Linked DNA regions of Homo sapiens. The protein of the gene in region 2 purifies or fractionates together with the protein of the main gene of each other region. This does not show direct contact. Each region holds a gene or a part of one and is shown on either strand. Other genes may lie near its edges.

Region 1 (2,231 bases), on a different chromosome or scaffold from region 2:
TCTTAAAAGAGAAAATCTTTTAAAAAATGTTTGCAGAAACAAGTTGGACCTGAGGCCGCGCAGAGCCTCCCCGACGGGTTCCCAGGAGTGGCGACAGCATGGAGTCCAGTCAGAAGTTCAGTTTGTCCACTCTTTATTAAAGCCAGGCCCTCCTGCTGACAGCTGCAGGACAGCTGCTGGGGCCCAGGAGGGACGGAGACAGCAGATCCTGGCCATACAGGGCTAGAGCTGAGATTCCCAGAGCCCCCCAAGCCCACCTTGCCCTTGGCCCTTTCTGAGGCTCCTGTCCCGCAGGGAGAGGAGAAACCCAGGGCCGAGGTCATTACCCAGCACCCCAATGCCTCCCTGGGACCCCTGCTCTCCTCACCACCCCGCCCCGCAACCTCACCAACCTCACCCAGCCAGGCTAACTGACCGCCACCACCCAGGCCCTCTTCCCACCCACCAACTACCGTGCCTCCTACCCGCCCCCAGCCCTGGCAGCCTGGCTGCTGCGCTCAGCCCCCAAGGCCATGTCTACACTAACGTGGAGGGAACTAGGTCTATTAGGGAATGCAGCTGCACCAAAAATCCGTTTCCTGGCCCCATTCACAGTGGCCCCAAAAGCGTGAGGGGAATGGGGCTTCACATGAACTACACCCCAGCTGCCCGCCCAGTGGCTTCCATGGGCCCAGTCCAGAGGGTAGGATGCCCACCAGGCAGGGGCCTTGCATAGTTGGGTGCCTGGTTTGTCACTGAGCCACGGCTCAGGTCCACACCCCCCCGAGGTGGACAGCCACTGTGCAAGCTGCCAGGCCACGGGTGCCTCCACTAACCAATTTGTGAAATGGGACTCTAAACAGAAACACTACTTGTTCTAGTGTAATGACAGAAGCAGAGTTAAAGGGACCTGCGAGTGTCCTAGGGCCCTGATTATGGGATGTGGGGAAAGATCCTTCGACCAACCTCAGTCGCTCTAAGTGAGCGCTGGGCTCCGAGAACGGGGCGTCTGCCTGCTCCCGGAGAGGGGCAGCCCAGGGAAGTGAAAGCTGGGGCTCAGGGCTGCGAGGGCCTCGGGCGCCCGTAGATGTCTGAGTTTGCCACCTCCGGCTGAGGGAGACGAAAGTACCAAGGACTGAGAGGACAAGCAGAGACCAAAACCGAACCGGTGCGGAGGGTGCCGGGGTGACCTCGGTGCAAGTGTGGGTAGAGAAGAGGAGGCGGCTCGAGAATAAGGCTTCAAACTCCCTCAGGACCCTGTCAACACCCGCGACCCGTCTGCCTGGCCGTAAGTTTGGTATCTGGCTTTTTCTCCTCCTAGATTCTTCAGGCCATACAAGAAGTGGAAATAAATATCCGCAGACGACAAGTTTCAAGTTTTCCCACTGGAGCTCCGCCCTTTGGAAACCTACAAGGCCTCCCCTCGCCGCGCGCAGTTAAACCTTCGGGACAGACTCGGATGACCGGGAGGGCCCAAGTCTCTCACTGAGGAATGGGAAGAAGTGGTCAGCCAAACCCACCGGCCTCCCAGGCATCCCGCTGGCCCACCTGGGTGGCCGGGCCCCTCCCTCGCCGCCACACCCGGTTGCAAACACACAAATCCCTTGCTCCCCAGACCACCCAAGTCGGAATCCGAGTGAAATAAATAGCATCGCCCGCCAACTACCGCCCTGCTTCACAGCCCGGGCCCACCCAGGGGATATCGCAGTCTCCGTGGGGGTGACGTCCTGGCCTCGCTGCCTCCGCGCTGCTCTTCTCCCCAGAGCTCCCCCACGTCTCCGGCTGAGCACACGGACCCGGCGGGCATGAGACCCGGGGCCGCAGGGCGAGGGCTGAGGGAAGGCACCGCACCCAGGACTGGGACCCTCAGCCTCCCGGGGCCCGAGGAGCGGGGGGCCGGCCGTCCAAGGGAGGGGCCGGTGGCCCTGCAGGCTGCGCTGCTGTCGGCCCCGGGCCCCTCACAGGACGCCCTCCCGGTAGGCGCCCGAGGGCCCGGCGAACGCGGCCTGGTGCTCGGAGCCGAAGCTTGTGCCGCCCGCGAACTCCAGCAGGGCGCTGCCGCGCTCACCGGGGCCGGCACTGGACGGCCCCTTGGCGGCCGCCTCGGGCTTGGGCGCGGGGGCTGGGGCCGAACCCGAGCCCGGCGCTGCGGTGGCTCCGCGGTGCGTCTTCATGTGGGTGAGCAAGTGCGAGCTCTGCGAGAAGCGGCGGCCGCAGTTGGCGCAGGCGTAGGGCCGCTCGCCCGTATGTGT
Region 2 (3,500 bases):
CCTCCCCCTGAATCTTACATTATTATTTTCTTTATGTTTGACATTTTCATAAATTATGAGAAAAAATTTAAAAGCCATGGTGCTAGCCCAGGCCCTCTTTCCCACTGCTGCCCTCTGCTCTCCCTGGAGAATAGCCTGCGCGTCTTAGTCTGCTTGGGCGGCCATGATAAAATTCCACAGGCTGGGGGCTTCTACCACTGACATTGATTCTCATAGTTCTGGAGGCTGCAAAGTCCAAGATTAAGGCACTGGCTAATTCAGTTTCTGGTGAGGGCTCTTCCTGGCTTTCAGAAAGCAGTCTTCTTGCTGTGTCCTCACTTGGAGAGAGAGCTCTCTGGTATCTCTTCTTCTTCTTTTTTTTTTTTGACATGGAGGAGGACAGAGGACACTCCCTCTGTTGCCCAGGAGTGCATTGTTGCAATCTCAGTTCACTGCAACCTCCGCCTCCTGGGTTCAAGCGATCCTCCAACCCTCCCAAGTAGCTAGGGTTACAGGTGTGCGCCACCACGACTGGCTAATTTTTGTATTTTTAGTAGAGATGAGGTTTCACCATGTTGGCCAGGCTGGTCTTGAACTCCTGACCTCAAATGATCTGCCCGCCTTGGCCTCCTGAAGTGCTGGGATTACAGGCGTGAGCCACCCAGCTAGGCCTCTCATGTCTCTTCTTAAAAGGACACTAATCCCATCAAGAGGGCACACCCTCATGACCTCATGTAACCCTAATTATCTTCTTATCTACTTATCTTACCTGCATATCTTCCAAATGCCATTACATTGGCGGTTAGGGCTTCAACACGATTTTTGAGGGGACAGAGTTTAGTCCATAGCACTCAGGCATTGGTCTGCTGTGTGCCCTCCTTGCCCCTCCCCATGATGTGTACGTACGTACATGGGCACTTACAGAGATAGGATAGTTGCTGAACTCTCAGGTCCTGGGTCCTGGGCTAAGCACTTTACACGCATTTTCTCCTTTCGCCCTCACAATTACCCAGTGAAGTTGGTATTATCTATCTCCATTTTATTGAAAGGAACACTGAGGCTTAAGGAAATTGTTACTTGCTTAAGATCCCATTAGAGCTAAGGTTTTTTTCTTCTTTCTTTCTTTGTTTTTTTTTTGTAGAGATGAGGTCTTGCTGTGTTGCCCAGGCTGGTCTCAAATTCCTGGCCTTAAGCTATCCTTCCCGCTTTGGCCCCCAAAGGGCTGGGATTCCAGGCATGAGCCACTGCACCCAGCCAGAGTTGGGATTTGAACCTAGTCATTCCTTTGCTTGTTCCCCTTACCCCTGCCCAACGTTGGTCTTGAAGATGTTTCCACATCAGGGTAAATAGACTTGCCTTGTTCCTTTTAACTGCTGACTCTGCAGTGCAAATATTTCATAGTTTACTAACTCTTCTCTTATTGATGAACATGGAGATTATTTCCAGTTTTTCACAATTTCAAACAGCACTAGGGAACTTTTACAGAGGAGGTTCCACTGAAGCTGAGTTTTGAAGTATGAGTAGGAGTTTTCCAGCCAGACAAGAGGGAAAGGCATTCGAGGCAGACAGAGAACATGGGCAAAAGTGGAGCACCAAAAGAGCGTGGTGCATTTGGAAGATGGCAAGAATTTAAGCCAGTGGCCAGGTGCAGTGGCTCACGCCTGTAATGGAGGCCAAGGCAGGTGGATCGCCTGAGGTCAGGAGTTTGAGACCAGCCTGACCAACATGGTGAAACCCCATCTCTACTAAAAATACAGAATTACCCAGGCATGGTGGTGCATGCCTGTAATCCCAACTACTTGGGAGGCTGAGGCAGGAGAACTGCTTGAACCCAGGAGATGGAGACCGCAGTGAGCTGAGATCGCGCCATTGTACTCCAGCCTGGGCAAAAAGAGCAAAACTCTGTCTCAAAAAACAACAACAACAACAAAAAAGAATTTAAGCCAGAGTGAAGGTCAGGGGCAAGGAAGGAGGTGGGCAAGGCAACCAGGACTGTGTTCAAAGGCATCGTGAGCTATGGGGCGGCATTGCTGTCTTACCCTAAGATGAGGTCTGTGGCCTGTGGGAGCAGCGGAGAGGTTTTGAGCAGAAGGGCCCTGATTAGAAATGCCCTTTGGTCAGAACATCCTGGAGGCTGTGCAGAGGATGGCTTGAAGGAACCTAGGTAGAGATAGACACACTGGAGGCTCTGGCTATTCTCCAGACTAGAGATGAATGTGGCCGGGCTAAGGGGTAGCAGTGAGGATGAGAGACGTGGGCTGGTCCAGAGAGTATTTAGGACTGGATGTGGGCAGTGCAGAAGAGGGGCAGCTAAGGTGGTTCCCCACAGCCCTGTGTGTATAGGAGATGGAGATGAGGGAGGAAGAGGGGACCATATATTTCCAAGGTTCTGTTGGGGAAATGAACCCCAGTCTTGTCCCTTTTCCTGCCAGACACTGACGAATGCCTAGGGACTCCCTGTCAGCAGAGATGTAAAAACAGCATTGGCAGCTACAAGTGTTCCTGTCGAACTGGCTTCCACCTTCATGGCAACCGGCACTCCTGTGTAGGTAAGGCGGGGAGGACCCTGTGGTCTGCACACTTAGGCTGCCAATCAGGAGGATGGACAGGGAGCCCAGGGACCCGGGAAGGTTAACAATTAGACTTTCTGGTCCTCTGGAGCTTGAAGGGGCTTGAGCCTTTGGCTCAGAGCCTGCCTGTCCCTGGGGTTGGTGTGGCTCTGCATGAAGACCCTGTCTTGGACTTTTCCTGGCCATTTGCCACTTTCATCCTGTTATGTTTCTCTTCCGCTCCTCTCCCAGATACACCCCAAGGATTCCTCTCTGCTCACCCATTTTCTTGGCTGCCTTTGCTCCCCTTGGTAAATAAAGCACGTTATGTCTTGGTTCCTCTGGTTTAGAAGGAGACCCTGTTTTCTCAGCCCATTAGCAGAAATTTCCAGAAAGGGATTGGCATGTTTGGTTTGAGCTTGGCTCATGGGTTTAAGGTGGGGTCCCATGGGCCTGAAAAAAGACCTTGTTCTAGCGGAGTTAGGTATTTGTCCCGAAGCCTTCCTTCAGCAGCCCAGTGAGTTTTGAGACTTTTTTCGGAAAGAAAAACGGGAGGGTGGAAGGTTTGGAGATGAGCTTCTCATTGGGGCTTACCCCTACCACGCAGCAATTAATTACCGCTGCATAGTGCTGGGGCTGAGTCTCTGATACTCGCATTAAATACCTGCTCGATGTGTGAACCTATTAACAAGACAAGCACTAGATTTCAGCCCCGCTCCCAGCTGTCTGAGTCACATCCCGCACCTCGGGGCAGGCATGGACCCTGTAAGAACATGGCAGAGAAACTCCCCAAGTGTTTTGAGCTAAGGGATGGGCGGAAGAAGGGCTCCGTAGCCCAAACAAAGCAGCTGTCCGCAGCGAGGCTCTCCCGCAGATGTAAACGAGTGTCGGAGGCCATTGGAGAGGCGAGTCTGTCACCATTCCTGCCACAACACCGTGGGCAGCTTCCTATGCACATGCCGACCTGGCTTC

Evidence for each region.
Region 1: the proteins of VWCE (region 2) and ZNF316 purify together in Homo sapiens (affinity purification with mass spectrometry; 2 studies listed by BioGRID and IntAct, with this or other methods). This does not show direct contact.

What each region holds. Positions count from the first base shown.
Region 1 is NC_000007.14:6,654,318-6,656,548, reverse strand, and holds part of ZNF316 (zinc finger protein 316), read right to left. Parts: coding exon 1,938-2,231; 3' UTR 1-1,937. UniProt on the Homo sapiens protein: May be involved in transcriptional regulation.
Region 2 is NC_000011.10:61,281,817-61,285,316, reverse strand, and holds part of VWCE (von Willebrand factor C and EGF domain-containing protein precursor), read left to right. Parts: intron 1-2,411; coding exon 2,412-2,528; intron 2,529-2,780; exon of another isoform or gene 2,781-2,839; intron 2,840-3,402; coding exon 3,403-3,500.